Linked DNA regions of Homo sapiens. The protein of the gene in region 1 interacts with the protein of each later gene in a pairwise test. Each region holds a gene or a part of one and is shown on either strand. Other genes may lie near its edges. The genes, in order: KLF11, DXO, CNST and LARP4B.

Region 1 (7,132 bases):
TTCAGACCCACACAGAGAGGATACGCAACTTATTTGCCAGCATCCCAGGGAATCTTCTCACAAGTTCTTCAACACACTGAGTTCAGCTACTCTAGTCATTTCACAAAAACGCTCCTCCCTCCCACCTCCTCTTACCAGAGTCGATAAAGAATGGAAGTCTTTTGGTAGTTCAGGTGTGGCTGCATCCATATGCACAGTGGTGGTGACATCCCCAGAGTCAGAGACAGGCGTGAGGGGTCTTATCCGCAACAGGTCACCTTTCTGGGATCTTTGACCCCAGGAGCTCATACAAACAAGAGCCTCGACAGCTTCCATGTCTGTCTGCTCCAAGATGCTGCAAGTAGACCTTTCGCTGTCATGCCGCTTCCTCTCCAGGATGGACTCACATATGTCCATGATGTCAACCTAAAGGCGACACAACACAACGGCTTCTCAGTGCAGGGGAAATACAGAGGCCACCCATGATGGGCATGTGGATATGCATATCAGAAGCCTACAGTAGGCATGTAATGCACATGCAATAGTCTATAGCAACAAACACCGAGGTGTAGTAAAAGACATTCAAGGAATGCTCATGACAATTCGGCTTTTAAGCCAACATTTCACAGACAGAACTAAGCTGGCAAGCGTTGCCACCAAAAATCCTGACTCTTAAAAAGGGCTACTAAGTTCATATTTTTCTTGGGTAAATGATTAATAAAATTAACTCCTGAGGTTCAAGCCAAAAAGTGGCTGGGAGGAGGAGCAGCTGCCCAGGGAGGAGGAGCCAACACTGAGGCCATCTAGTCGGTCTGCCAGTGGCCGCGGCGCCCTGACCATGGCTCTCTGAGGCGGCAAAGCCGCCAAAGCAGTGTCCCTACAGATGCTCTCAGGGACTCTGGGGCCTTCCGCCTAGGCTTCCAGCACTCCACGCAGGTAGGGCCCATGGCGATTCCACCAGTTCCCTCCACAGATTCGGGAGTGGAAGTCATCTGTTACTGTCCCAAGGCTAGCAGGTGGTGACAAGAAGCCAACCTGCCGCGAACCCGGAGAGGATCTCTTTGCAGTTTTTTTTTTCTTTTTGAGATGGAGTCTCAGTTGCCCAGGCTGGAGTGCAGTGGCACAATCTCGGCTCACTGCAGTGCCCGCCACCACACTTGGGTAATTTTTGTATTTTTAGTAGAAAGAGAGTTTTGCTATGTTGGTCAAGCTGGCCTTGAACTGACCTCCCGGGTTCAAGCGATTCTCCTGCCTCAGCCTCCAGAGTAGCTGGGAGGCGTCCGCCACCACGCCCAGAAAATTTCGTATTTTTAGTAGAGACGGGGTTTCACCATGTTGGCCAGGCTGGTCTCCAACTCCTGACCTCAGGCGATCCACCCGCCTTGACCTCCCCAAGTGCTGGGATTACAGGCGCCCGGCCTTGTTTTTTTGAGACAGAGTCTTGCTCTGTTGCCCAGGCTGGAGTGCAGTGGCACCATCTCGGCTCACCACAACTTCTGCCTCCCAGGTTCAAGCGACTCTCCTGCCTCAGCCTCCCCAGTAGCTGGGATTACAGGCGCCCACCACCATGCTCAGCTGATTTTTGTATTTTTAGTAGAGAGCGGTTTTCCCCATGTTGGTCAAGCTGGTCTCGAAAGCCCGGCCTCAGGTGATCCGCCCACCTCGGTCTCCCAGAGTGCTGGGATTACAGACGTGAGCCACCGCACCAGACCCTCACCGTCTCTTTAATCTGGAGGGGAGGAGGGAAGAGGCTGGAATGAGCTGATCTCTTCCAAAAGAAAACTAAGCCGGGGGCGAGAGGGTGATATTACTCTGAGAAGAGTAATACCCCTCCCTCCCAGGGAGGTTACAGTGGGCCGAGATCGCGCGCCCACTGCACTCCGGCCTGGGCGATAGAGCGAGACTCCCTATCAAAAAAAAAAAAAAGGAAAGGAAACTTTAAATGTACGAAGATACACGTTTCCTCTCTATCTGCCATGCACCAAAGCATCAAAGCTTTCCGTCTGCCGAGGTTCCCCGAGATCAAACAAGACGAGGCCACCTCAAATCCCCGGCCTCTGTCCCGCAGGCTGCGCCACTAAACCCCCTGTGATGTCACAGAACCGGGCGCCGAGGCCGACTCACCACACGGGCGGGAAGGGGCTCGCCCGGCCCACAGTGCCCGCACACCACGAGGCCCGCGCTCTGCCCACGTCCACGGCTACCTCCCCGAAGCCCCCAGGTCGCGACGCTTAGGGCCCCCAACGCTCGCGTGCCGCGTTCCCGCCTCCAAGCGTTGCCCCGCCTCCAAGGCAGTGCGGCGCTCCCGCCTCCCGTCGTTGCCCCGGCCCCTAGACCTTGCCCGCCCCCAGGCCCGAGCGGCACTACCGCTAGCCGCTCTTAACCCGCCCGACGGCCGCGTGCCCCGCCCCCAAAACCGTGCCGCGTTCCCGCCAGCAGCTCTTGCCCCGCCCCCAAGGCCGCGTGCCGCGTTCCCGCCAGCCGCTCCCCCGCCCAACGGCCGTCCGGCTCACAGGACCGGGGTGACGTCATGGCTGGAAATAGCCGCGGGGCCAGCGGGGCGGGGCCGCCCAGGAAGCGCAAGACAAAGCTGCGCGGGGAACACGCCCCCTCCTCGCCCCCGCCGACCCGGGCGCGCCCGTCGCGGCCGCCGCCCCGCCCGGCTCCGGAGCCCGCCCAGGCCCCTACCGGCGCGGCCGCAGCGAAGCCCTGCACGCCCCACCTCCCGCATTTACAGGCGCGCGAGTGCCGCACCACTTCCCCCGCCTCGCCCCTCGCTCAGACGAGTAGTCCCGCCGCGGCAGCCCCACCACTCACTGCGCGCGCGTCGTCTGGGCCTGCGAAGTCCGGCGTGTGCATCGTGCAGGCCGGCCGGGAGCAACAAAGCGGCCGCGGGGCGTGAGCTCGGGCGCAGCAGCGGCCGCACGTGGGCTGCGGGCGGCGGCGGCGGCGGCAACCCGGAGCTCCTGCGGCCGGCACGCGCCTCGCCCGCCCGCGCGGCTCTGCCCCGGCGCGGCCCTCGCGGCGCGGGAGGGGCGGGGCGGCCGCGGAGGGAGCGGCTGGCGGGGCGGGGCGCGGAGGCGAACCAAAATACACCGCGCCCCTGCCGGGGCGGGGCCGGCCACCACCAGCCAATTCGTGCCCGGCCGGCCAATGAGCGCCGCGGGGGGCCGCGTGATCGGAGCCTGGCCGCGGCGTGATCGGGCAGGGCGGGACGCGGCACGTGTTTTGGTCGGAGCGAGGGGCGGGGCCTGAGGCCCTGGAAAGTAAGGGAAAGGTCGCAGCGGCGCCAGGGGCAAGCGGGGCGGAGGGGGCGGCGGGGGCGGAGGGGGCGGCGGGGGCGGAGGGGGCGGCGGGGCGGCGGGGGCGGCGGGGCGGAGGGGGCGGGGCGGCGGCTGGGGAAATCCCAGGGCCGGGGCCGGACTCGGTGCGGGGAGAGGGGACCACGCTTATAGGAACCTCCTGCAGCCCCACCGGCTGAATCCATCGGTAGCGGAGACCCACCTAGAGGCCTCAACCTGGCTTTTGTTTGGTTGTTTTTAACTTCTGTCATTCTCCCTTCGTCTCTTAGGAATGCGTCCTTGACCGGAGAGGTCGGAAAGCTGGCCGGTTCTAGGTGACATTCCTGCATCCGGTCATTTTTGCAGACAGCGGGAGTCAGAGCTTATTGGCCTGAGTGTCCCGCTGACGCCCCTCCTCTGGCGTCTCTGGGCCTCTTCCGCTCTGTTACGGGGTCAGGGGAAGCCGAAACGGGCAGTCACCCAGAAGGCGCCCGCTGAAACCCGCCCATTCTTCCCAGGCCCCGAGAAAACGCCGCCCCCTCCGGGAAGTCCTCGAGCCTGCAGGAGACATCTAGCCCGCTGTCCAGGGCACCTTTTTTTTTCTCCCTATATTTCGGTTGCTCGCGTCTCTTGGTGTGGTTTGCCCACGTCTGCAGCGCCAGGTTCGTGGAGAGCAGGAACCATGCTGTTTATTTTCGTCGCCGCAGCCTTCAGCTCAGCGAGGAGCCACCCCTCCTCCGTCTGTTCACTGCGCGCGCCTTTGCTGAGCTGTGATGCGGGTTGGCGCTCAGTGCAAGGGGCAGAGGCCGCAGTGAGGAATCCTCCTTTTTTAAAAGCTCCATCCAGGGAGCGGGAGCAGAGAGAGAATCCCGGCACCCCGGGGCTTTGCTCTGAGCGAGAGAATTCTGGTCTTAGGGGAACGGGCTGGGCCCCACCACTCACATGAGCAGGACTCTGGTCCCCACTTGTTCCTTCGGGGCCCACTCGGGTTGGGCAGAGGGGTTGACCAGGCTGAGGAGAGGGTGTTTGCTGAAATAGTAAGAGGGTTTAAGACGAAAGAACCGTGATAAACTGCTCGCATGAAGACCCCGGAGGCTCTGAGAGGGGCGCAGGGTGTTCTGTGTGTAAAAAGTTAAGTCTTAAGATACACACTGGAATATTCTCTTTTGCCTGGACTCCTGCATTCGCCTTATAACTGGTCTCCCTGCGTCCACTCCAGCTCCCAGAGCCTCTTCCCACTCAGCACCCCCAGGGGTCTTTAACCCTTTCAGTGGCTCCCACTGTACTCAGCGTAACGCTTCTGCTCCCCACTGTGGCTTGTGAGCTCCTGCAGGGACCCAGCCCCATGCCTCTCCCCACGCCCCGGAGGGACAGCCTGGGCCTCCTCTTGGGCGCCTGTCCCACCAGCCCCTCTGCCGTCTCCAGGTCCTCGCACTTGCTGTTCCCTAGAATGCTTTTCCCCCACATGCCCCCTTTACTCTCACCCGCAGTCCACCTGGAGAGGCCCCCTCTAGCGGACACACCCTCGGGGCCGACCTCCAGTCCCCTTCTGGCGGGCTTTCTTGTTTTCTTCCTCCACAACACTTTTCTTGAACTGCCCCTTTTCCATTACTTCAGTTATTTATCATCTGTCTCCCCACCAGAAGGACTCTCCCAAGGCCAGGGAGCCTGGCTGTTTAATAAGTCCACGTAGGTGAACGAGCGAATCGAAGGTATCCACCAGCCTCCCTGCTTGAACATCCCGTGAGCACCTCTAATTGTGTCCTTAAAAAAACTGAACTCAGGGCCGGGCGCGGTGGCTCACGCCTGTAATCCCAGCACTTTGGGAGGCCGAGGCGGGCGGATCACCTGAGGTCAGGAGTTGAAGACCAGCCCGGCCAACATGATGAAACCCCGTCTCTTCTAAAAATACAAAAATTAGCCTGGCACGGTGGCAGGCGCCTGTAATCCCAGCTACTCAGGAGACTAAGGCAGGAGAATCGCTTGAACCCAGGAGGCAGAGATTGCAGTGAGCCGAGATCGCACCACTGCACTCCAGCCTGGGCGTCAGAGACTCAGTCTCAAAAAAACAAACAAAAAACTGAACTCGGATTCCAGCCAAATCTGGATTTCTCACCTCCGTGAAGGGTACAACTGGAGACCCTGTTCCTTGATCTAGAAACCTGAGCGTCACCTTTACCTCCTCCCTTTCGCACAGTTGCTGTCTTCCGCCAATTACATGCCCTTCTTCCTTCTCAGTTCCTCTCAAACTCTTATGTCACCCACGCCAGCCCTTGTCCTGGCCACCACCTGCTCACCTGAATTGTTGCCACTGCCTCCCAACAGGTCTCCCTCCCTCCAGCCAGACGCCCTACAATCTGCCCTCACCTCACTGCCAGAATGATCTTCTGGAAGCAGAGGTGGAGCTGAACCTGTATTCAAGCCGTCAGTTGGAATCCAAACAGTTATAGGACTGACTTCAGGCTCCATGGCCAGGAACCCATGAGTCTTTGTAGCCAGGCTCCAGCCAGCACTTCCTGCATCATTTCTGACCAGTTTCCCAAATTGCTTTCCCTGCTGCCTTCCTGCCCCCACTGACCCAATACAGAACCCTGTACTCTCAAGGTCACGCCACTCTCTTCTGTTTCTAGACAGCATTCCTTCTGCGTGGAACATGCCAACCCTCGTCTGCTTTGACTTTGCAAAACTGCATGAGACCGCCGGGCGCGGTGGCTCACGCCTGTAATCCCAGCACTTCAAGAGGCCGAGGCAGACAGATCACCTGAGGTCAGGAGTTTGAGGCCAGCCTGGCCAGCATGGTGAAACCCCGTCTCTACTAAAAATACAAAAAATCAGCCAGTAATCCTAGCTACTCGGGAGGCTGAGGCAGGAGAATCGCTTGAACCCAGGAAGCAGAGGTTGCAGTGAGCCGAGGTCATGCCATTGCACTCCAGCCTGGGCTACAAGAGTGAAACTCCGTCTCAAAAAAGAAAAAAAAAAAGAAAAAAAGACTGCATATGACTCCCCAGTGAAGCCCTCCCTGATTGGCCTCTGCAGAAGGCAGCATGCCCGGGCTTTGGAGTCAGACCTGCATACAAATCCTTGTTTTGCCGGTGTGACCTTGCCAAGTCTTCTTTCCTGCAGGACAGAAGGCGGCAGCAGCTCTCCCTGAACTGGCACTCTGGCTTCTCTTGCCCCAGGGTCTGTTTCTGCTCCTTGGACAGCAGGCGCATGTGGGAACTGTGCCCTCTTCAGCCATGAGCCCCTGTTCTGCGCACATCTAGCCCATCTTCCAGATGGACAGACAGTCTGTGGTCGTCGCCAAACCCCTGAATCTGGCCCTGCCCGCAGTCAGAGGGATGGCAATTTGTAAGCTACAGACTATTGCGAATCATTCACTTGGAGACTGAACTAAGACTACTGGCACCAGGCTCCGTAGACCCTCGGGAAGAGCATGGTCTGGCAGGCAGACTGGATGTGGCCACAGATAACATCCCCTAAGGGGAGAGCGTGAGCCTGCAGGCCAGAATGCCACCACTTTCTCCTGTGTCGTTCCAGAGAGAGCCTGTGGCTATGCACGCTTGCTGCTACAGAGGGTAGTGCTGTATACCTCCTGGGCTCACTTACTGACTTTTCAGTCTAAGGGCTTATTGCAATTGGTACATAACGATCATACTTTGTAATGGTTAAGTAATATTCCATCATATGGATGTGTTGTTTATTTAACATTCTGGTTGAATAACCAAGACTTTTAGGTTTCCAGTTTTCCAGGAACATCATGCCCCTCCATCATTTGCCCACCTGGAAGGATAACTACAGGATAAGCAGCTCTTAGAACTGGAATTGCTGAGTTAACTGCTCTGTGCATTTCCTTGCTTTTTCTTGCTTTTCTT
Region 2 (7,553 bases), on another chromosome or scaffold:
TGGTGAGGTCCAGGTGGCTTGTGGCCTGAACCAGACGGTGGAGGAATTTGTGGGGGAGCTGAATTTTGGGCTGGTTGAGGTTGTATATGAGTGGGCCCGGGGCATGGTGAGTACCTGAGGTTTGGGATTTTGCAGACGGCTGGCTGGGGAGAACCTGCCCAGGCTGAGTGCATCCAGTCCTCACCCTACTTTCCCCACAGCCCTTCTCCGAGTTGGCAGGGCTCTCAGGGACCCCTGAGGGCCTGGTGGTCCGCTGCATTCAGCGCCTGGCTGAGATGTGTCGCTCACTGCGGGGGGCAGCCCGCCTGGTAGGAGAGCCTGTGCTGGGTGCCAAGATGGAGACAGCGGCTACCTTGCTACGGCGGGACATCGTATTTGCGGCCAGCCTCTACACCCAGTGAATGCCCCATGTAAAAACATGATGATAAAACAGCAAAGCACTGTTGTGTGCTTGAGTTGCTGGACAGGGATGACTCAGCTAAGAAGACAGCGAGAGAACCTCTTAGAAATATGCTTTTATTATCTGCACACAGAGATATGACTGCCTCCCTCTAAAGCATTACTATTTGGGAGAGGGAGTCTTGGGGGGTGATGGGAGGTCCTGAGTCATAGCTTCCACATACCATATGGGCAGGAAGGCGTAAGGTGCATCTTGGTGTACAGACACGGTGACTGGGCCGCCAGGCTCCCAAGAGAAGAGATGAACGAGCCTGGGGGGCAGATGGAGGCATCAGTTGAGGGCCAGAGGCTGGATCCTGGGATCCAGAGGGGAGGGACAGAGCTGAATGCCTCACCTGGGGTCATCCTGGACAACCGTGCTCTGGGCAAAGCTAAGGAAGGCGGCACAGAAGTTCATGCACACAGAGGGATTCCAGCCGTCACGGTCATTCTGGAGCAGGCAGAGGAGGAGGCAGAAGATGGGCAGTGGGGGTGGTGGGAGGAGAGAAGGCAGGCTGTTGCCCTGGATGCTAGACCTGTGGTCTTGGTGTTTGGGGATACGGGTGGGAGCTGCAACATCGTTCCCTTACCCTGACATATTCAAACATCTTCATGGTAGGAAAGGTCTTGAGGGAAGAGACAAAACCGTCTGGGTTACGGAAGCCAGCAACAACATTCGGGACCCCTGGGAGGAATGACTGAGCCCACCATTTCAGGAGCTTGTGTCTGACAGGAAAAGCAAGGGATCAGTGGGACCCCTCGTGCACCCTCCATTCTGCCTTCACCCTCCTCCCCAAGTCCCTTTCCCAGCCTTCAAGCCTAAGCTCTCGCCCTGCCCACCCCGATCCTGAACCTGTAGAAACTCCTCCATTGGCCAGGGCTGTGCATCTCCTTGGAGGTCTTGAGCTCCACATAGCAGGTTGGGGGCTGTGTGGATGGGGCTTGGGGGTCTGTGCAGTCTACCTCCCCTGAGAAGAGCAGAGGGTGGCTTCCCAGGCGGCTGCGTAGCACAGAGCAGAAGGCCACGTTGGTGTTAACCTCCCCAGAGGGGTCTGGGGAGCTTCCAGGTTTGTCTGCACAAGGAGAGAAGCAGCAGCAGGCGTGGGGGGCTCTCAACCTCTGGGAAGGGGAAGGGGGCTATGAAGCAGGGGCAACTCACCTGCACACATGTACTGCTCAAATTTGTATCCCATGTACATAAGCTCCCGGAGGAGCGGTGGCCGAGCAAGCCTCTGGGCCCGAGCGTTCGGTGTCTCCACTTCACTCAGGTATAGTGTTCCCTGGAACCGGGAGGCTGCCAGCTGCCAGCCCTCCTGCCGCTCATACGGTGTCGTCAGCAGTTTTGTCAGGTGCCCCCGCCACGTCACTATGGCCTCTGCCAGCCAGCCTGGACCCCTGAGAGGCAGGAGTTACAGGCTGAAGGTCTGACACAAGCATTAGTGAGATGCTCCCCTCGAAGAATAGTCTTGTTTCTTCTAAGGACTGATTCTCACCCCGGCTTTGGCTCTCCTAATTTTAGAGGGTAGGTACGGGTCTCCAGATATACTGCCTACCACGCTTTGCTCACCCCTCCAACCGGCCTCGGTGTTCCAGGAGCCAGCACAGCAGGTGGTCCAGCCTTTCCTGGACCTCCTCGTCCCGGGGCTGGTATCGATCCGGGTATCCGTCTCTGAGGTCAAAGTTGGGGCCTGGACCGTTAGTGGGGGGTGGGCTATAGTAGCGCAGGGCTCGGGCATCTCCATGGTACTGGCGTTGAGCATCCAGGGAGAAGCAGCCCAGTTCCGAAGGGCGCCGGTAGAAAGGAAAGGGCCCAGAGTAGAGGGCAGGGTCTGTGGGCAGAGAAGGTGCTGGACGAGGTAGTTTGTTCCGAGGCTCAGCTACCTCTGTCTTCTCAGCTCCTCTCTTGGTCCCCCTGGGATCCATGAGGTCCTAAGACAAGCAGGGGTACAGAGTTTCCATTCTACAGAGGAGGCCTGGAGAAGGATGACTGGTTTAGGACTAAGCGAGCCACCTGATCGCCAGGCTCTGGCCTTGAAACATTCAGGCCCCTCAGACGCCACCGCGGCCAAGCTCTCATCCTGCCTCTTTCCTTGCCCTTCACCCACCCTCCCTCCAGGTCCTCCAAATGCAGTGAGGTTAGGAAGGACGTCTGCGCTCAGATCAAGAATCCAGTTACCTCAAAGCTCCCCAACTTCCACCTCCGCAGAGCTATGACGTCATGGCAGGCACGCCAGAGGCCGAAGGATGCAAAAGTGGTTTTCTGCTTTCGATGATGCAATCATTCAGCGACAGTGGCGGGCAAACCCCTCCCGGGGCGGGGGAGGTGTGAGCTTCACGAAGGAGGTTGACACCAACGTGGCCACCGGCGCCCCTCCACGCCGCCAACGAGTCCCCGGGCGTGCGTGCCCTTGGAGGGAGCCAATCCGCGGCCGGCGTGGGGCCCGGCCTGGCGGAGGTGATGCTGGTATGTGCGTCGCCACCGCCCCTCCCAGCACTGACGGGCCTGAGGGACGACAAGTTGACGCTCCTTTCGTCATCACCTGGTCTAGGAGGGACGCCCGGGGAGACCGTACGTCACTGCTCTGCGCCGGAAGACCCTATTTTCAGGTTCTCTTCCCTCCATTCCTACCCCTTCCCCGGTACCATAAAATCCCGGGATATGAGCTGGAAGAGGCATCACCTGATCCCGGAGACCTTTGGAGTTAAGAGGCGGCGGAAGCGAGGGCCTGTGGAGTCGGATCCTCTTCGGGGTGAGCCAGGTAACCATGGCAACCCCGGGGGTGGGGCCTCGCTTCCGGTAGCCGAGAGTTTTGTTAGAACCGCGTCCCCGCCCCAGTTCCCTGTCCGTGAGCCGATTTATCTGCCCAGGGTCGGCGCGCGCGGCTGTCTCAGAACTCATGCAGCTGTTCCCGCGAGGCCTGTTTGAGGACGCGCTGCCGCCCATCGTGCTGAGGAGCCAGGTGTACAGCCTTGTGCCTGACAGGACCGTGGCCGACCGGCAGCTGGTGAGGGGCGTCGGTGCGACCGCCGGAAGCCCCTTTCCTAACTCCTGGAATTCCCTGTCACTCAGTCACTCCGCCAGCCGTTCAGCAAGCATTAGGCCTTTCAGGCGAGGGCACTGTGCCAGGCACTGGGGTGCCACAGAGACCCTGTTAAAAGTCCCGCAGGTAGTACAGGGCATTTCAAATCATGGAGGTAGAAGAACGAGGCTTTTGGGGAAACCGAGTCATGGGGCATGGTTCGAACATACAGCGCTGGGAGTGCAGTCAGACGTCAGATCATGACAGGCCTTGTACATCAGTGTTGTTTCCATCTTACACTGAGGCGATGGGCTGGTAGAGAATATCATAGAGAGAGGGAATGGTGTATTGGAGATAGTGGATGAGGCAGGGAGGTCAGCTAAGAAGATACTGCATCTGAGAAGTGGTGAAGGCCTAAATTAGGTCAGTGCAGTAGGGAGGGAGAGGAGAGTGAGGAAGAGGGAGGAGTCCAGGACAACTCAGACTTTCCAGATGACTGCGTGGCTGGTGGTATTAGGAGCACATTTAGTTGTTGGACTACAGATAATGTGTTTAATTTTATACAAGTTGAGTTGATGGTGCATGTGGAGCATCCAAAGACAAAGGTATTAGACAGTTGGATATGAGAGTTGGAGAGAATTCTGGGCCAGTGATAATAGAATTACAAGTCATGGAGGTGTGAATAGCAAGTGGTTAATTCTGTGATGTGGTGAGATCCAGTAGGAAGAGTGGGTAGAGGAGTGATTTCTAACCTTTTTGTAATCTTTAGAAGGTGATAAAAGCTATGGCTATCTCTCTCCAGAAAAATGCACGTTTGCCACATATACATAGGGTGTATGTATAGTTAGGGGGGAAATATTTTACTAATCCTGCGAGGTCCGTGGTTAAGGACTCCAGGTTTAGAGTGGAAGTTAATAGGGTCAAATCCACAATGCTGGGAAACACCATCATTTAAGGCAGTGTTACTGAATATATGAGCTGAGTTATTATGCCTGTGTCAAAATTACGTGGGCTGCTTGTTAAAAAAAATACAGGTTCCTGGGACTCATCCAAGGTTAATGAATTACGCTCTCTTGGGGCGGGATTTGGGACTCTACATTTTTGAACTGCCTCAAGTGCTTTTTAAGTGTGCCTTAAAATTTGAGATCCACTGACATAAAGGGAAAGCAGAAGAAGAGGAATCTGTGACAGAGGCAGAGAGGGACTTGCCTGAGTTAAGAGGAACCCAGAGGCCGGCGCGGTGGCTCACACCTGTAATCCCAGCACTTTGGGAGGCCGAGGTGGGTGGATCTCTTGAGCTCATGAGTTTGATACCAGCATGGGCAACATGACATAACCCCATCTCTACAAAAAATACAAAAATTAGCCAGGCGTGGTGGTACGCGCCTATAGAGCTACTGGGGAGGCTGAGGTGGGAGGATTGCTTGAGCTGGGGAGGCGGAGGTTGCAGTGAGCTGAGATAGCACCGCTGCACCCCACCCTGGGTGATAGAGCTAGACTTTGTCTCAAAAAAAAAAAAAAAAAAAGTAACCCAGGAAGAGGCCTACTGTGAAAGTAAAGAGATTTTTGAGAAAGTGAAGTAGTTGGCAGTATTAGAACCTGTGATTCAAGACAGTGGTCTAAGAAGAGGGAAGAGGTAAAGTAAAATATAAACTGAAATCTAGGCTGAGTGTGGTGGCTCATGCCTGTACTCCCACCACTTTGGGAGACTGAGGCAGGAGTATAGCTTGAAACCAAAAGTTTGAGACCAGCCTGGGCAACAAAGTGAGACCCCATCTTTACTAAATAACTGAGATCCCATCTCTACTAAATAAATAAATTAAAACACAAAAATTCTTAGCTGGGCATGGTGGTGTGCACCTATTGTTCTAGCTGTTTGGGAAGTTGAGGCAGAAGGAGTGCTTGAGCCCAGGAATTTGAGGCTGCAGTGAGCTATGATTGCACGACTGCACTCCAGGCTGGGTAACAGAGGGAGACCCTGTCTCTAAAAAAATGAAAACAACAACAAAAAAACCCAGAACTGAAATCTGTCCATTGGATTTAGCAGGTAGAAGGTTAATAGTGATCTTTCAAGAAAAGAGGAAAGAAAAGGAAGGCAGTCTAGCACTCACTTGAGGTGAGCTAGTCTCCCTGACTAGGTCTCCCGTGAGGAAGCATGCCAGATGGAACCACTCCTTAAGGAGTATTTGTTGATTTTAATGTATTGGTGTTAGCTTTTGTTTTTAAAAACCTTTAAAAGTTGCAGAATGAAAATATAAACATATATAATTTAAATGATGTTTATAAAGCAGATACCTATCTAGCCACTCCCTAGGTCAAACTATAGAATATGACCAGTATCCCACATATATCCCTCTCTGATCAAAATGTCTCTGATCAGAATGTCCCTGGGAGGTGACTGCTGTGGTCATTGTTGCCTTAGTTTTCCCTTTTTTTTTTTTTTTTTTGAGGTGGAGTGTCGCTCTGTTGCCCAGGCTGGAGTGCAGTGGTGTGATCTCAACTCACTGCAACCTCTGCCTCCTGGGTTCAAGCAATTCTCCTGCCTCACTGTCCTGATTAGCTGAGACTACAGGCACGCGCCACCATGCCCAGCTAATTTTGGTATTTTTAGTAGAGATGGGGGTTTCATCATGTTGGCCATAATGGTCTTGATCTCCTGACCTCGTGATCTGCCCTCCTCGGCCTCCCAAAGTGCTGGGATTACAGGCATGATCCACCGCACCCGGCCTAATTTTGTATTTTTATAGGGATGGGGTTTCACCCTGTTGGCCAGGCTGGTCTCAAACTCCTGACTCAGATGATCTGCCTGCCTCGGCCTCCCAAAGTGCTGTTTTTTTTTTTTTTAATTGTCTTTTTGATAATTCCACTATTTTTTTTTTTTTTTGAAAAGTCTCCCATGTCTACCTCTTTCCACACAGACACGGCAACCATCCGATTTCTCAATCTTTTCCCCACCTTTTCCCGCTTTCTAGTCCACAAAACCACCATTGTCATCGTGGCCCGTTCTCAATGAGCTGTTGGGCACACCTCCCAGATGGGGTGGTGGCCGGGCAGAGGGGCTCCTCACTTCCCAGCAGGGGCGGCCGGGCAGAGGCGCCCCTCACCTCCCGGACAGGGCGGCTGGCCGGGCGGGGGGCTGACCCCCCCACCTCCCTCCCGGACGGGGCGGCTGGCCGGGCAGAGGGGCTCCTCACTTCCCAGTAGGGGCGGCCGGGCAGAGGCGCCCCTCACCTCCCGGACGAGGCGGCTGGCCGGGCGGGGGGGGCTGACCCCACCACCTCCCTCCCAGACGGGGCGGCTGGCCGGGTGGGGGGCTGACCCCCCACCTCCCTCCCGGACGGGGCGGCTGGCTGCGTGGGGGGCTGACCCCCCCACCTCCCTCCCGGACAGGGCGGCTGGCCGGGCAGAGGGGCTCCTCACTTCCCAGTAGGGGTGGCTGGGCAGGGGCGCCCCTCACCTCCCGGACGGGGTGGCTGGCCGGGCAGGGGGCTGACCCCCCCACCTCCCTCCTGGAGGGGGCGGCTGCCGGGCGGAGATGCTCCTCACTTCTCAGACGGGGCGGCTGCCGGGCGGAGGGTCTCCTCCCTTCTCAGACGGGGAGGCTGGGCAGAGACCCTCCTCACCTCCCAGACGGGGTCGCGGCCGGGCAGAGGCGCTCCTCACATCCCAGACGGGGCGGCGGGGCAAAGGCGCTCCCCACATCTCAGACGATGAGCGGCCGGGCAGAGACGCTCCTCACTTCCTAGATGGGATGGCGGCCGGGCAGAGACACTCCTCACTTTCCAGACTGGGCAGCCAGGCAGAGGGGCTCCTCACATCCCAGACGATGGGCGGCCAGGCAGAGACGCCCCTCACTTCCCAGACGGGGTGGCGGCCGGGCAGAGGCTGCACTCTGGGCACTTTGGGAGGCCAAGGCAGGCGGCTGGGAGGTGGAGGTTGTAGCAAGCCGAGATCCCGCCACTGCACTCCAGCCTGGGCACCATTGAGCACTGAGTGAACCAGACACCGTCTGCAATCGCGGCACCTCCGGAGGCCGAGGCTGGCGGATCACTCGCGGTTAGGAGCTGGAGACCAGCCCGGCCAACACAGCGAAAC
Region 3 (7,022 bases), on another chromosome or scaffold:
TCTAACTCTAACACAATTAAACCAAAACAAATTTACGAATTATGACATGCAAAAAAAATCAATAAAGTTAAAATAATAGTCACTGAACACGATGCTGCTCTGTAAAAATTAAAGTTTTGTTCACTAGTGGAATACGGTATACACTGTGACTGCACGGTTATCATAGGCACGTGAGGATCCAACTCTCCCACCACCAATTACTGAGAAATCTTTGTTTCTTTTTTTTTTTTTTTTTTTGAGACGGAGTCTGGCTCTGTCGCCCAGGCTGGAGTGCAATGGCGCCATTTCGGCTCACTGCAAGCTCCACCTCCCGGGTTCAACCAATTCTCCTGCCTCAGCCTCCAGAGTATCTGGGATTACAGGCGCCCGCCACCATGCCTGGCTAATTTTTGCATTTTTAGTAGGGACACGGTTTCACCATGTTGGCCAGGCTGGTCTTGAATTCCTGACCTCAAGTGATCTGCTCGCCTCGGCCTCCCAAAGTGCTGGGATTACAGGCGTTACAGGCGCGAGCCACCGCGCCCAGAGAGCACTGAAATCTTATATGAGAATGTTGTTTTAAAGTGTCAGTATTGTTCTTGAATAAGCTTATATTATTTTTTATCATTGAAATAAAAATAGGGAATTTTTAAAAATGCTAATTACTTTTTTCCTCTTCCACTTCTCTGTATTTTACATATTTTCTATGATAAACTTGTATTTTTTCTAGTTGAGTTTCATGACACCTTTATCGACATATAATTCATATACCATACAATTCACCCACTTAAAATGCACAATTCAATAGCTTTTAGTATTCACAAATTGTACACAATCAATTCTAGAACATCTTATCACCCCGAAAAGATCCCCCCTGCCCTACATACCCACTAGCAGTGATTTCCCATTCTCCTGCACCCCCACCACAGCCCCAGGCAATCACTCAAACCACTCATGTACTTTCTGTCTCTATAGATTTACATATTCTGGACATTTCACGTAAATGGAATTATACAATATGCGGTCTATTGCAATTAGCTTCTTTCACTCAGCATGTTTTCAAGGGGTATCCATGTTGTACTATATACTGATACTTCATTTCTTTTTATTGCCAAAGAATCTTCCACTGTACAGATATACCACCTTTTATTTATCTATTCATCAGTTGATGGACATTTGGGCTGTTTCTACTTTTTGACTCCTGTGAATAATGCTGTTATAAACATTTGTGCACGTTTTTGTCTGAACACTTGACAAAAGGTCAGGAGGTCAGGAGTTCAAGACCAGCCTGGCCAACATGATGAAACCCCGTCTCTACTGAAAATACAAAAATTAGCCAGGCTTGGCGGCGGGTGCCTGTAATCCCAGCTACTCGGGAGGCTGAGGCGAGAATCACTTGAACCCGGGAGGTGGAGGCTGCAGTGAGCCAAGATCGTGCCACTGCACTCCAGCCTGGGCAACAGAGTGAGACTCTGTCTCAAAAATAAATAAATAAATAAATAAATAAATAAATAAATAAAATACTTGAGGAAGATTTGTTCAGATTTGTTCTTTGACTCACTATGACTTTCCTTCATAATCTATTAAATTATTTTTGTTTTAAATAAAATACTACTAAAAATGATGCTTTTACATAGGAATCCTTATAAAGCCATAGCTGCTTATAAGAGAGATTTAGGAAGGACATGCAATAACCAACCAAGTCAAACTGATGCTGTGGTTGTTGTCCTTTTTTGAGTAACATATTCCTTGAAAAATCTGATGAAAGTTGAGAATTCCCTCTGAAAAATACACGTATTGTGCTTTGGGAGGCCAAGGCTGGAGGATCGCTCCTGGAGGAGGCCAGGAGTTCTAGACCAGCTGGGGCAACACAGGGAGGCCCTATCTCTGCAAAAAGTTAAAAAAAAAAAATTAGACTGCATACCTGCAGTCCCAGCTACTAGGGAGGCTGAAGTGGGAGGATTGCTTGAGTCCAGGAGTTTGAGGCTGCACGGAGCTATAATCTTGCCACTGCATGGCAACCTGGGTGATAGTGCGACAAGCTGTCTCTAAAAAAAATTTTTTTTAAAGAAAAAGAAAAAACACGAATTTTTGAATAACCATGTTTTCCTCAAGTTAAAATTTATTTATCTTTTTAAAAAATCTTTGGAGCGGCTGGGAGCGGTGGCTCACGCCTGTAATCCCAACACTTTGGGAGGCCGAGGCGGGCGGATCACAAGGTAAGGAGATCGAGACCATCCTGGCTAACACGGTGAAATCCCGTCTCTAATAAAAATACAAAAAATTAGCCGGGCGCGGTGGCGGGTGCCTGTAGTCCCAGCCACTCCGGAGGCTGAGGCGGGAGAATGGCGTGAACCCAGGAGTAGTGGAGCTTGCAGTGAGCTGAGATCACGCCACTGCACTCCAGCCTGGGCAACAGAGCGAGACTCAGTTTTATTAAAAAACATCTTTGGAGCATTATTACTTCTGTAATCAAGAAGGAAAAAAGAGGCAAAGATGTGTACTTCTACCCCCCACCACTTCGAGTTTCTAATAAAATATGCCTATTCTGACCTGTCAGCTTTCCATGGAAAAAACTAAAAGGTGAGGGAAGGCAGAATAATCTATAGAGACATTCTGGGCACATTTTTTCACTTACACTGAAGAGCTGGAGGAAAATGGAAACTCTCCAGCAAAGGCTATACAAAGTACGTGGTTTTACACAAAGCGTTACACAAGTACATGGAAGCTTTAGTTACAAAACAGATATTCTTAGAATATGTTTCCTCAGCCCAGATAAGTGTTCCTGGAGCAGAAATTTTGCTCATAAGGTTTTTGCACTCGCAGCTGTTCTCTTTGAGGCTTCAGGGAAGGCAAGCCATGGACACACAGGTTAAAGCTCTGTTGGCATTCACCGGGCAATCCCTAGGTTTTCCCCAGCTATGCAGTGGAGACAGGAAGGATAAAAAGCCCGCAGGCATCAGAATGCACGAAACTATAACCAACCAAGAGGCCACCTGATATAATAAAAACTAACTTCTTGAATTAAATACTATTTTACTTTAGGTTATTTTGAAATACAGCTTTCTCTGGCTAGTGAAAAGATGAGCTTTGGTGAATATATGATCTAACAGATTAATTTTAAAACAAAAGTTCAAATGTAATGGTAATAAGACAATCTTCTTCCAAGTCACAAGACCTATATTACATGATTAAAGTAGGGAAGAGCAAGGGTATTACCTCTAATTTTGGCTCTTTACAGTGCTTATCCAATGCTACAGGTATAACTCTAACTGGCATGCCGAAGAACTCCACAACAAAATTTTTAAAATACTTGTAGCAAGAAGAATCTAGAGATTGCTGTGTAAATCATTTAAAATAAAGCCTGATGGCTGAATTTGAATTAAGATGCCAAAAATGGGTATCAATAATGACTTTTCCAGGAAACTACATTTCACAATATCATAACCAGTATAATTTGCACAAACGTCCACCCCTCTTTTCATGTGAGTTGACGCTGAGGGAGGAAATCCTGTTGGTTACATGAATCCTTGTAAGATCCAATTTAAGTAAACTTTTTCATGCTTCACAAGTGGAAAAAAAAATCTAAAATGTTAGTTGTTGTTTCATGAGGTAAAAACAAATAACTCAGGCCTGGTGCAGTGACTCACACCTGTAATCCCAGCACTTTGAGAGGCTGAAGTAGGCACTCTGCTCGAGCTCAGGAGTTCAAGACCACCCTAGGCAACATGGCGAAACCCTGCTTCTATTTTTCTAAAAAATTAATAATTAAAAAAACCACATATCACACACATAAATAAATAACTCCACTATTTATTATTCAATAAATAAAACATACATTTGGCTGGGAGTGGTGGCTCACGTCTATAATCCCAGTATTTTGGGAAGTCAAGGCAGGAGGATCACTTGAGCCCAGGAGTTCAGGACTAGCCTGGGCAAAACAGTGAGATCTCATCTCTAAATAACAAACCACACACATTTTCACAAAAATCCTTATTGAAAAATCTTAGGCAATGTTTTTCAGTTCATCTAAAAATTATTTTTAAGATTTAGTTGTATACTGGGAATAAAAGCTGCAGAAGAGAAAAATAATGAACAAGGACAATGCATACAAAAAATCAAAATATAAGCAGTATACTATCAAATACTCAAGGACAGCAGCATTTGATCTTATAAAGTTCCCAAATTTTTTAATAACTTATTTCAAAATCTATAATATAAAAAAGTATTTAATTCATTTATGTATGTATTTTTGAGACAGGGTCTTACTCTGTCACCCAGGCTGGAGTGCAGAGCACAGTGGTGCAGTCATGCTTCACTGCAGCCTTGACCTCCTGTGCTTAGGTGATCCTCCCACCTCAGCCTCCAGAGTAGCTAGGACTACAGGCGTGAGTCCCAGGCATGGCTGTGACTGGCCAAAAACCATTTTTAAAGGTTACTTTACCTTCATTCAAATTAGAAAACCACAGTCACCTAATTCACTGAGTTTTCAAAATGCAGCTAAGGTAGAAAAAATATGTGATTATTTAATCAGGTAGTGGCTCTCCAGAAAAAAACAGGGCAATTATTCTCATAAGAAAATTTAATACATATGCCAATTGCAAAATAATGTTAATTTCTATAATTGCCTAGATACTGTCAATTTAAATATCAAATGCCCAAATGTCAATGAAGGGTGACTAACCAGACAGTGTGGCACATGCCTATAGCCCCAGCTCAGGAGGCTACAGCAGGAGGATCACTTGAGCCCAGGAGTTCAAGGCTAATCTGGGCAACATAGTGAGACCTCATCTCTAAAATAAGTAAATAAATATGACAAAATTTACCATTTACTGTTTCAGAATTTTTCTTAATCTAAAAGGAAAAATCATCTTGATTTGTCAGTATTTTCATAGGCACACACTGTCTTTCCTTTCCACGTGGCTAATGATGATGAAAAACAGGAAGTCCTAAGAGACGGAAGGGTGGAGGGTATAATGGCAAAAAGTTTCCATCTCCAAAATGTTAAAGAGCAGGATCTCAAAACTAAGATAAAAACCATTTGGCCTGGCACAGTGGCTCACGCCTTTAATCCCAGCACTTTGGGAGGCTGAGGTGGGCGGATCACTTGAGGTCAGGAGTTTGAAACCAGCCTGGCCAACATAGTGAAACCCTGTCTCTACTAAAAATACAAAAAATTAGCTGGGTGTGGTGGCACACGCCTGTAATCTCAGCTACTTGGGAGGCTGAGGCAGGAGAATCACTTGAACCCAGGAGGTGGAGGTTGCAGTGAGCTGAGATCTCGTACCACTGCACTCCACCCTGGGCGACAGAGCAAGACTGTCTCAAAAAGGATAAAAACAATTTAAGAAATCTCAAGCTATTATAAGACTTCAGAATTCTGCTAATGATGTGTTCTTTAACGAATATTACAAACAATTATTTCAAATGCTTAAAAAACAAAATTATTCCCTGAGAGGATATATAATTTCCCCCATGAGAATGATTCCTACATAAAGGAAAGCCTGTATTCATGTGAATCTTGAAGGCCCTAAACTGGAAAGGTTACATAACAGTATCAAGACATACATATATTAAGTTAGAATTTCTCATTAAGCATATAATGCTTTTAAAGCCCAGTTAAACCTTATCAGGGCTTTTTAAAAACTGAAGATTACTGCACTATCAATTACTCTTCCTAAAATAACTACAATAAATTTGCTAAGACTCACTTGTAGAAACCAAGCAATGTATTTTCTCTTATCCAACTAAAAGGGTGCCAATAAACAGCTATCTAGTTTTAAATACAAACAAAAAACATTATTATTTTCTTATAGAACATCCACACATCTCTCACAGAACAAGTAACATCCAGTAACTATACCCCTTCCCCAATTCTGTCTTTGATCCTCTAACACTCCCCATAGTCCCTACATTGTGCCAGGTCTATCATGACTATATTTGACAGAGGGAGTTTGTTCACTGACCAGGTAATTTAAAATTTCTTCATACTATAAAGGTTGAGAAGAGGGCATGTTTCCTGTATTAAATTACACTGAATATTAATTAGGCCTTCAGGCTAATTTAGCTATTAATGTAGATATAACACACAGCAGCTAAAGTAGTATTTAGGGAAGTTTATTAGAGCACAGAGGTCAAGACAGGAACAATGATGGGTCTGACTGATCCCCATGGAGGTTAACTGGCTTTAGAGTTACCTTTGTTACAGCAGCTCTGAACCACTGACGGTTCTACGTAAATCACCACCCTTGTTGCAAAAACAACTTGAAGCACGTATGGAGACAGTATGTCAGTTGCTTTATATAAAAACTGCCATCTTTCCTTTTAAATTCCCCTAAACCACCATACACAAGTTAATCTTTTACTTTACTCAGGCTCCCAGCATTCTACAGCCATAAAACCTACTCTCTTCCTTTCTAAATTTTGCTCAAAGATTTGATCTTTCCCTTGGTAAGAAACACCATGATATAAAGAAGCACATTTATAAAACTCTTAGCCTTACCTGAAACTGACTCAGAAAATAACTCTGCAACAACAGGTACTCTACCTGTTCACAATAAAGTTCAATCTTCTTGAAGGTCCTCAAGTTCTCCCTACAATTTAGTCGACAGAAACTCATACTGTGCCTTGACACACTGTTGACGTGCAGATGTAAATAACTAGTAACAATGACACGCCAGGAAATGACTGAACACTATTCATCTTATGAGCCTCATTAAACAAGCATGGGGCTCAACGTTAACACAGTCAACACTAAGAGAAAGAGGCTGGGCATGGTGGCTACGCCTGTAATCTCAACACTTTGAGAGGTTGAGGTGGATCATTTGATCCCAGGAGTTCAGGGCTCCGGGACTGCCACTGCACTCCAGCCTGGGCAATAGAATGAGAATCTGTCTCAAAACAAACAAAACAAAACAAAAACACTAAAAGGAAGAGACTTAGAACTCTCTTCCTGCATAGAAACTTCTCAAATTAAATACCGCAGTACTTCAGGAAGAGGAGTTTTTAATTTACCCCACAGAATCAGACTCTCAGTGTAGGAA
Region 4 (7,022 bases), on another chromosome or scaffold:
TGTAGTCCAGCTGTTGGAGAAGCTGAAGTGGGAAGATCGCTTGAGCTTGGGAGGTTGAGGCTGCAGTGAGCCATGATCCTGCCACTGCACTCCATCCTGGACAACAGTGAGACCTTGTCTCCCCCCACCCCCAAAACATGCAAATTGGGACATCAAATTGTTAATGGTGTTTACAATGAACAGTGCCTTCAGGTAGCTGCAGCTACTCTACATAGATTTGCAAGTTTTTGTAGTGATAGGCTATGGTAGATGTTACCAGCCAAGGAGTGGCTGACAAACTCCTTTCACTGTTATTTCATTGTCATGTTAAAATTCATATTTTCCGTCAAAATAGTGATAGCTAGGATTATAATCTAGGTCTTCTAATCTTAGTAACGTGTTGTCTATGTTAGGGCCTCTCAAAGTTGTAAAAAAGCTGTATAGATGTGTTACCATCAATCGATTTCATTTGTTTTTATCCTAGTGTTAAAGGTACAAGTTTTTTTTTTTTTTTCTTTCCTGAGGCGGACTTTCACTCTTGTCGCCCAAGCTGGAGTGCAATGGTGCGTTCTTGGCTCACTGCATCCTCCGCCTCTCGGGTTCAGGTGATTCTCCTGCCTCAGCCTCCCGAGTAGCTGGGATTACAGGTGCCCTCCACCACACCTGGCTAATTTTTTTTTTTTTTGTATTTTTAGTAGAGTTGGGATTTCACCATGTTGGCCAGGCTGGTCTTGAACTCCTGACCGCAGGTGATTCGCCCGCCTCGGCCTCCCAAAGTGCTGGGATTGCAGGCGTGAGCCACGGCGTACCTGGCCAAAGGTACAAGTTTTAAATATGCTTTTATCATGCATACAGTACTCTTATAGATTCTGTCAGATTTAGGGATATTCTTTTCAGATTGATAAATTGCACAAAAATCTTGGAGTATATTCTTGTAATTTCTTCTACAAAATTCTCAAAACAACCTTTTTCCAATGGGGAGAAGACATGAACACTGAAGTCATGTTTTTGGAAAATACCTTGTTAAAAACAGACACTGCTGTAAGGGTTTCCTTGCTTATGCTCTTTTGTAGAACTTTATTGATGTGAAGAGTTCTCCTTTTTCTGTAAAAGCTTATTTTAGAGTACGAAGTAAATGAGGCACTCAGAGAGTTAACCTCATCAGGTCTGAGTTTAGTTCAGTTTAAACTTTTTGCTCTTATGCTGGTTGATATCTTTGTAACTACTCTACTTCTAGAGTTATTTTGATTGGAAAATGAATTCCTTTTTTAGAACATGGAATTGTAAGGTAGAAAACTGCTAGGTTCTCAAAAGAAGGGAGATAAATTCCAACTTGAAAGTTTTTTCCCCTAACGTTCTAATGCTTTGTTTTTCCTGTGTGTAAATGCCTTCCTTAGGAACAAGGAAAATTATTAACTCAGCTGTGTTTCCTTCCCTTCTCTTTCTCACTGCCCCCCCGCCACCCCATACCTTAATACCTTTTGTCCCTTCAATGCCTTTATAAACTCTGTCTTCTCATAGTTTTTCTGGTGAAGCTGTCATGGCTCCTATTTCAACCATAAAGGATTTGCAGTTCAGTGATGCTACTGGTTTTACATCTTCTTTCCCATCAACCCCATTGCCCTGGTTAGGAGACCTAGACCATGGAGTACATTGCAATATTGAAAGTATTTCATGTTTAACACAATTTTTTTTTTTTTTTTTGAGACCGAGTCTCGTTCTGTTGCCCAGGCTGGAGCGCACTGGCACGATCACGGCTCACTGCAACCTCTGCCTCCAGGGTTTAAGCGATTCCCCTGCCTCAGCCTCCTGAGTAGCTGGGACTACATACAGGTGCGTGCCACCACGCCCGGCTAATTTTTGTACTTTAGTACAAATTGGGTTTCACTGTGTTGGCCAGGCTGGTCTTGAACTTCTGACCTCAAGTGACCCATCTGCCTTGGCCTCCCAGAGTGCTGGGATTACAGGCGTGAGCCACTGCGCCCGGCCATGTTTAACACAAATTTGAAAGCGTACTGCTTAGTTTTTTAGGGGGAGTATGATAATCATAGAGATGAGACTTGATCTTTGCTGAAAGTGTTCTTTATGAAGTCTGATGTGCATAAATTTGCCCAATAAAATGCTCTTTTATTTACACAAATCATTTTAGTCGCACTGTAGCCAGAGTGTGGCATAGCCTGATGGCTGGCCTCTTTTCAGAAACTCATCAGGACTGCCCTAGGCCTCGCCCTGTGTGTGCTTCCACTTCTGTGTCTTCCTTCTTGCCCTGCCCCACCTTTTAATCAGGACCACGCCTCCCTCTCCTACCTTGGTGTTGCAAACGTTGTAGCCATTGCTGTTGGTAGATTCTTTGACTGAAATTGAATGTCCACCTCCTTTAAAAAAATTTTTAAAATATTTACTTAGCTCCTTAAACCATCCTTAAAAAGATATTTTAGGAGTCCTCCAGACTGCTTTGCATTAACTTCTGAGATTATGCTTCTCTGTTTCTGTAGCAACTAAGTGTACCTTTGTGTTACTTAGCACATAATTAATGTAAGCTCCTTGTGAGTGAGATTCTCTTTTTATGCTTGTCACCTCTGCCCAGCCCAGGGACTGGTAAACTGTAGATGTTTAGTGAAAGTAATTCAAGTAAAGAGATAAGAATGCTCAAAGACATCTCCCACCTGTGTTCCAGAGAAATTGTTTGCTGATTGTATACTTGCACATTTCTGTAAACAAATAGGAAAATCTTTACTCAAAAAGCATACATTAGAAAGTTTCTTATAGAGTATAAAAGTTATATTTACAAGTTTTTAACTGACTTTTCATAGCTACATTTAGCGCATAAAGTATTTTCAGATAGAGTAATTTAGCCACATGACCTTTAAATTATACTGTTTCTCAGTCTTTAAAAACGTGCCCTCTTTCGGCCAGGCACTTTGATTCACGCCTGTAATCCCAGCACTCTGGGAGGCCGAGGCGGGTGGATCACCTGAGGTTAGGAGTTCGAGACCAGCCTGGCCAACATGGTGAAAACCTGTCTGTACTAAAAATACAAAAATTAGCCAGGCGTGGTGGTGCGTGCTCGTAATCCCAGCTACTTGGGAGGCTGAGGCGGGAGAATTGCTTAAACCCGGGAGGCAGAGGTTGCAGTGATCTGAGATCACACCACTGCACTCCAGCCTGGGCGACAGAGTGAGGCTCTGTCTGAAAAAAAATGAAATAAAATAAAATAAATGCCCCCTTTTAGATAGCCATAGAATTTCTTACCTTTATTTTGCTTTAAAATAAAAACATCATGTTAACCCAAAATGAAACAATTGCAATATTGAAAATGTATCTTTTAAACTTTAGTGGATGTTTTTCCATTTTTTATTTTCTGTTAAGTATTGCTAAAGGGCCTGGCATAAAGGAGGGCCACTGAGATTACGGTAAGAAAAGGGTTCATTTTCTTCCTGTGGCAGGTGTTCTGACCAGTTGAACACTAGGGATGCAAAGATGAAAGGCAACAGGATTTTTCTGTAAGGCCCGTCATCCAGCAGGAATAGGAAAGTGCATTGTTCTATGTAAAGCCATAGAGACTGGCCTCTGGAAGTGGCTGGCTCTCAGCTGCATGCTTCTTTGGATAGTCTGCTACAACAGTCACATATATTATGGTGTATCCTGCCCTGCACTCTCCTTGTCTCCCCTTCTTGCTGTACTTTTTTCATAGTATTTATGACACTATAACATACCATATAATTTACTTACTAATTTATGTATGGCCCGTCTTCTCATACTTGAATGTAAACTCTTATGAGATCAAGATTTATATTTTGCTCCTCAGTATGAACCTAAGCCTTAGAACAATATCTGGTAGGTAGCATGCGCTAAATAGTTGATGAGTAGATCCCAGTATGGTGAACAAGAGGGATAGATTGCCATCTCTTGGAGTTTGGTGTCCATTGAGACAGGTGGACAATCACATAATCCAATAAGAAAGTGCAGTGCACTGACATCCGGCCTGGATGGGAGGGATCAGAAGGCTTCCCTGAGGTTGTGATGGTGGCACCGAGGTTGGAGGGATGGTGGTGGAGTGAGAGGTCAGCAGAGAGAATTACCTGTGTAGTGCCCCAAGTGGGAAAGGTGCAGAGTGCTTTGAAGGAACTAGTGTGAACAAGGCTGAAGGAAGAGAACGCGGCTGGGAGGTAGGTGGAGAGTTTTATTTTACAGAGCTTGGGAGGTCCCATATAGGTTGATTATTTTGCCCTTTATCCTAAGACCAGTGGGAAGCAGTTGGAGGATTTTATGTCATAGAATTGTCTTTTTTAAATGATTCTGCTTTGCAGAGTCGTGTGGAAGCAGGGAGTGGTCACATGTGGGTGTTACTGGGCGGCAAGGTAGGGAATCTCTTTCTTCTTGTGTACACCTCTCTTCATAGTTGAAAAGGCCAAGCCCCAGTCTAAATGAGACCAGCCAGCTTCCTTAAAATCCCTTTAATTTGTATTACATATAATCGTGTATGTTTAAAAAATATTTTATTTTTTTGAGACAGTTTGTGTCACCCAGGCTGGAGTCCAGTGGCATGCTCACAGCTCTCTGCAGCCTCGACCTGGGCTTGAGCGATCTTGCCACCTTAGCCTCCCGAGTAGCTGGGACCCATGGGTGCATGCCACCACACCTGGCTAATTAAAAAAAAAATTTTTTTTTGTAGAGGTGGCGGGTCTCACTATGTTGCCCAGTCTGGTCTCGAATTCCTGGGTTCAAGCAGTCCCAGAGTGTTGGGATTACAGATGTGAGCCATTGCACCTGGCCTAAAAATGCTTTAAAATTTGTTTATAAAATATGTCTTAAATTTGCTAATATTTGCCAGTTGTTTAAAGTATATTTGTTATTTCAGATAATTTCAAACATGCCTTTTTTAGGAGTGTCTCTGAAAAATGAGAACATTTTGTTTTCACATTTCAGAGAGCTTTGTTTTTATTGTCAGTGCTCAAAATACAGAGATGAAAACCTAGTGATCAATTTGGTATAGATGTACAAATTGCTTCAGTTATTGTTATCTGTTAACATGTTGAACATTCTCTTTTTAAAAATATCAGGTCCTTTAAAATTTTCTTTAAAGGTGGCTTCATGCTTTTCTGAGCATTCTTTTTATCTTTGTTGATTACATATTTGTATTTCATTGTTGAGATTATCGTCTGTGTAATTTTTGCCTTATCAGTCAGAGAATACCAGTAACCTTTAGGAGGCATGTACAGATTTTTTTTTTTTTTTTTACTGGGTCCATAAAGGGGGAAAGTTTGGTCAGGTTGGGGAGCAGTCACACTTCTTCCTGAGAGGTAGTAAATACCAGGCTCTCCATCTGGAGGAGGGGTCAGTAAATCACGTTTGCAAAGGAAAAGATGCGGTAATTGGTAGGATTCAGACCTGTGCCGGGAAACCCCAATGGATTTCTAGTTCATTGCTTTAACCATTCAGTCCTGACTTTAAAAGTAGACTTGAAGTCCCTATGGGAAGCTACCTTCTAAAAATCTAGACATTTGAAAGGATGAAAGCATTGTCTCTTGTGCTTTTAGGAGGTTAAAAACATTTAAACCACGGATAGAACACTGGCATTTAGTGTTTCTTGAGTACTGTAAATACAGTAGCTTACTGTGAAAGTCTTTTTGGGTGGACTTCTGTCTGGCATGATTTGTTTTTTTTTTTGAGGTGGAGTCTCACCTGTTTCCCAGGCTGGAGTGCAGTGGCACAGTCTCCGCTCACTGGAAGTTCTGCCTCCCAGGTTCACGCCATTCTCCTGCCTCAGCCTCCCAAGTAACTGGGACTGCAGGCGTGTGCCACCACGCCCAGCTGATTTCTTTGTATTTTTAGTAGAGACGGGGTTTCACCATGTTAGCCAGGATGGACTCAATCTCCTGACCTCAAGCAATCTGCCTGCCTTGGCCTCCCAAAGTGTTGGGATTACAGGCGTGAGCCACTGTGCCCGGCCTGCGTAGCATGATTTTAAGTTCTATGTTCCATATTCCTCTGTGGTTAATATCCATACCTCCAGTGATACTTGTTATTTATTTATTTATTTATTTATTTATTTATTTATTTATTTAACAGACGGGGTCTCGTTCTGTTGCCCAGGCTGCAGGAGTGGAGTGTAGTGGTGTGGCCACTGCTCACTGCAGCCTCCAATTTCTGAGCTCCAGTGATCCTCCTGGCTATTTAAATAATAATTTTTTGAGACATGAGGTCTTGCCATGTCACCCAGGCTGGCCTCAGTCTCCTGGCCTCAAGTGATCCTCCAGCCTCAGCCTCCCAGGTTGCTGGGAATATGAGTGTGAGCCCCTGTGCCTTGCTCCATTGACAGTTGTTACCAGGCTAAATTGCTAGTTCAGGTTGCCTTTCAGTGGGTCACTTGGAGCAGGGGTCCCTAACTCCCAGGTTGTCCGACCCGTACCCATCATGGCCTGGTAGGAACTGCGCTGCACAGCAGGAGGTGAGCAGCAGGGTGAGTGAGCATTACTGCCTGAGCTCCACCTCCTCTCAGATGAGCAGTTGCGCTAGATTCTCATAAGAGCTCAAATCCTACTGTGCACTGCACATGCAAGGGATCTAGGTCGCATGCTCCTTATGAGAATCTAGTGCCTGATGATCTGAGGTGGAACAGTTTCATCCTGAAAGCATCCTCCTCACCACCCCCCACCCCCTGACCCCTCCGCTCTGTCTGTGGAAAAATTGTCTTGCATGAAACCTGTCAGTCCCTGGTGCCAAAAAAGATTGGTTACCGCTGACTTGGAGTACTGACCATTGTGAAAATGAGTAACTGATGAATCAGCAATAGTTGCTTCTTCACGCTGTCAGTGAAGACCAAAGAATGAATATGGGAAGCAGTATTACCAGTGTTGCTGCGTGTGCACGTGGCCTTCAGTTTTTCCCTGCTCTTCCCATTTCTTTGTACACACCGATGAATTTAATCTCTTCTGCTGAAATCATTATTCTTTAGGGCTCAGTACAGGAGAGTTAAACCTAAGCATGAAAGGACTGGAAATGGGATGTAGAATTGCCAAATAAACTGTAGAAGCATTGAG

Evidence for each region.
Region 2: the proteins of KLF11 (region 1) and DXO interact in binary tests that used the Homo sapiens proteins (3 or more experiments, as listed by UniProt).
Region 3: the proteins of KLF11 (region 1) and CNST interact in binary tests that used the Homo sapiens proteins (3 or more experiments, as listed by UniProt).
Region 4: the proteins of KLF11 (region 1) and LARP4B interact in binary tests that used the Homo sapiens proteins (3 or more experiments, as listed by UniProt).

What each region holds. Positions count from the first base shown.
Region 1 is NC_000002.12:10,039,423-10,046,554, reverse strand, and holds the start of KLF11 (Krueppel-like factor 11), read right to left. Parts: upstream 3,006-7,132; 5' UTR 2,839-3,005; coding exon 2,797-2,838; intron 2,727-2,796; exon of another isoform or gene 2,668-2,726; intron 2,335-2,667; exon of another isoform or gene 2,104-2,334; intron 1,224-2,103; exon of another isoform or gene 1,206-1,223; intron 406-1,205; coding exon 136-405; intron 1-135. UniProt on the Homo sapiens protein: Transcription factor. Activates the epsilon- and gamma-globin gene promoters and, to a much lower degree, the beta-globin gene and represses promoters containing SP1-like binding inhibiting cell growth.
Region 2 is NC_000006.12:31,969,315-31,976,867, forward strand, and holds DXO (decapping and exoribonuclease protein), read right to left. Parts: upstream 2,683-7,553; 5' UTR 2,615-2,682; exon of another isoform or gene 2,368-2,614; 5' UTR 2,362-2,367; coding exon 2,006-2,361; exon of another isoform or gene 1,992-2,005; intron 1,961-1,991; exon of another isoform or gene 1,861-1,960; intron 1,834-1,860; coding exon 1,598-1,833; intron 1,512-1,597; coding exon 1,292-1,511; intron 1,165-1,291; coding exon 1,029-1,164; intron 954-1,028; exon of another isoform or gene 890-953; coding exon 795-889; intron 711-794; coding exon 563-710; 3' UTR 501-562; downstream 1-500. Other genes in the region: SKIC2 (superkiller complex protein 2), read left to right, coding at 1-106, 201-401; WHR1 (winged helix repair factor 1), read left to right, coding at 2,683-2,902, 2,988-3,197, 3,307-3,443. UniProt on the Homo sapiens protein: Decapping enzyme for NAD-capped RNAs: specifically hydrolyzes the nicotinamide adenine dinucleotide (NAD) cap from a subset of RNAs by removing the entire NAD moiety from the 5'-end of an NAD-capped RNA.
Region 3 is NC_000001.11:246,569,450-246,576,471, reverse strand, and holds part of CNST (consortin), read right to left. Parts: intron 6,604-7,022; exon of another isoform or gene 6,599-6,603; coding exon of another isoform or gene 6,482-6,598; intron 1-6,481. UniProt on the Homo sapiens protein: Required for targeting of connexins to the plasma membrane.
Region 4 is NC_000010.11:921,701-928,722, reverse strand, and holds part of LARP4B (la-related protein 4B), read left to right. Parts: intron 1-58; exon of another isoform or gene 59-7,022. UniProt on the Homo sapiens protein: Stimulates mRNA translation.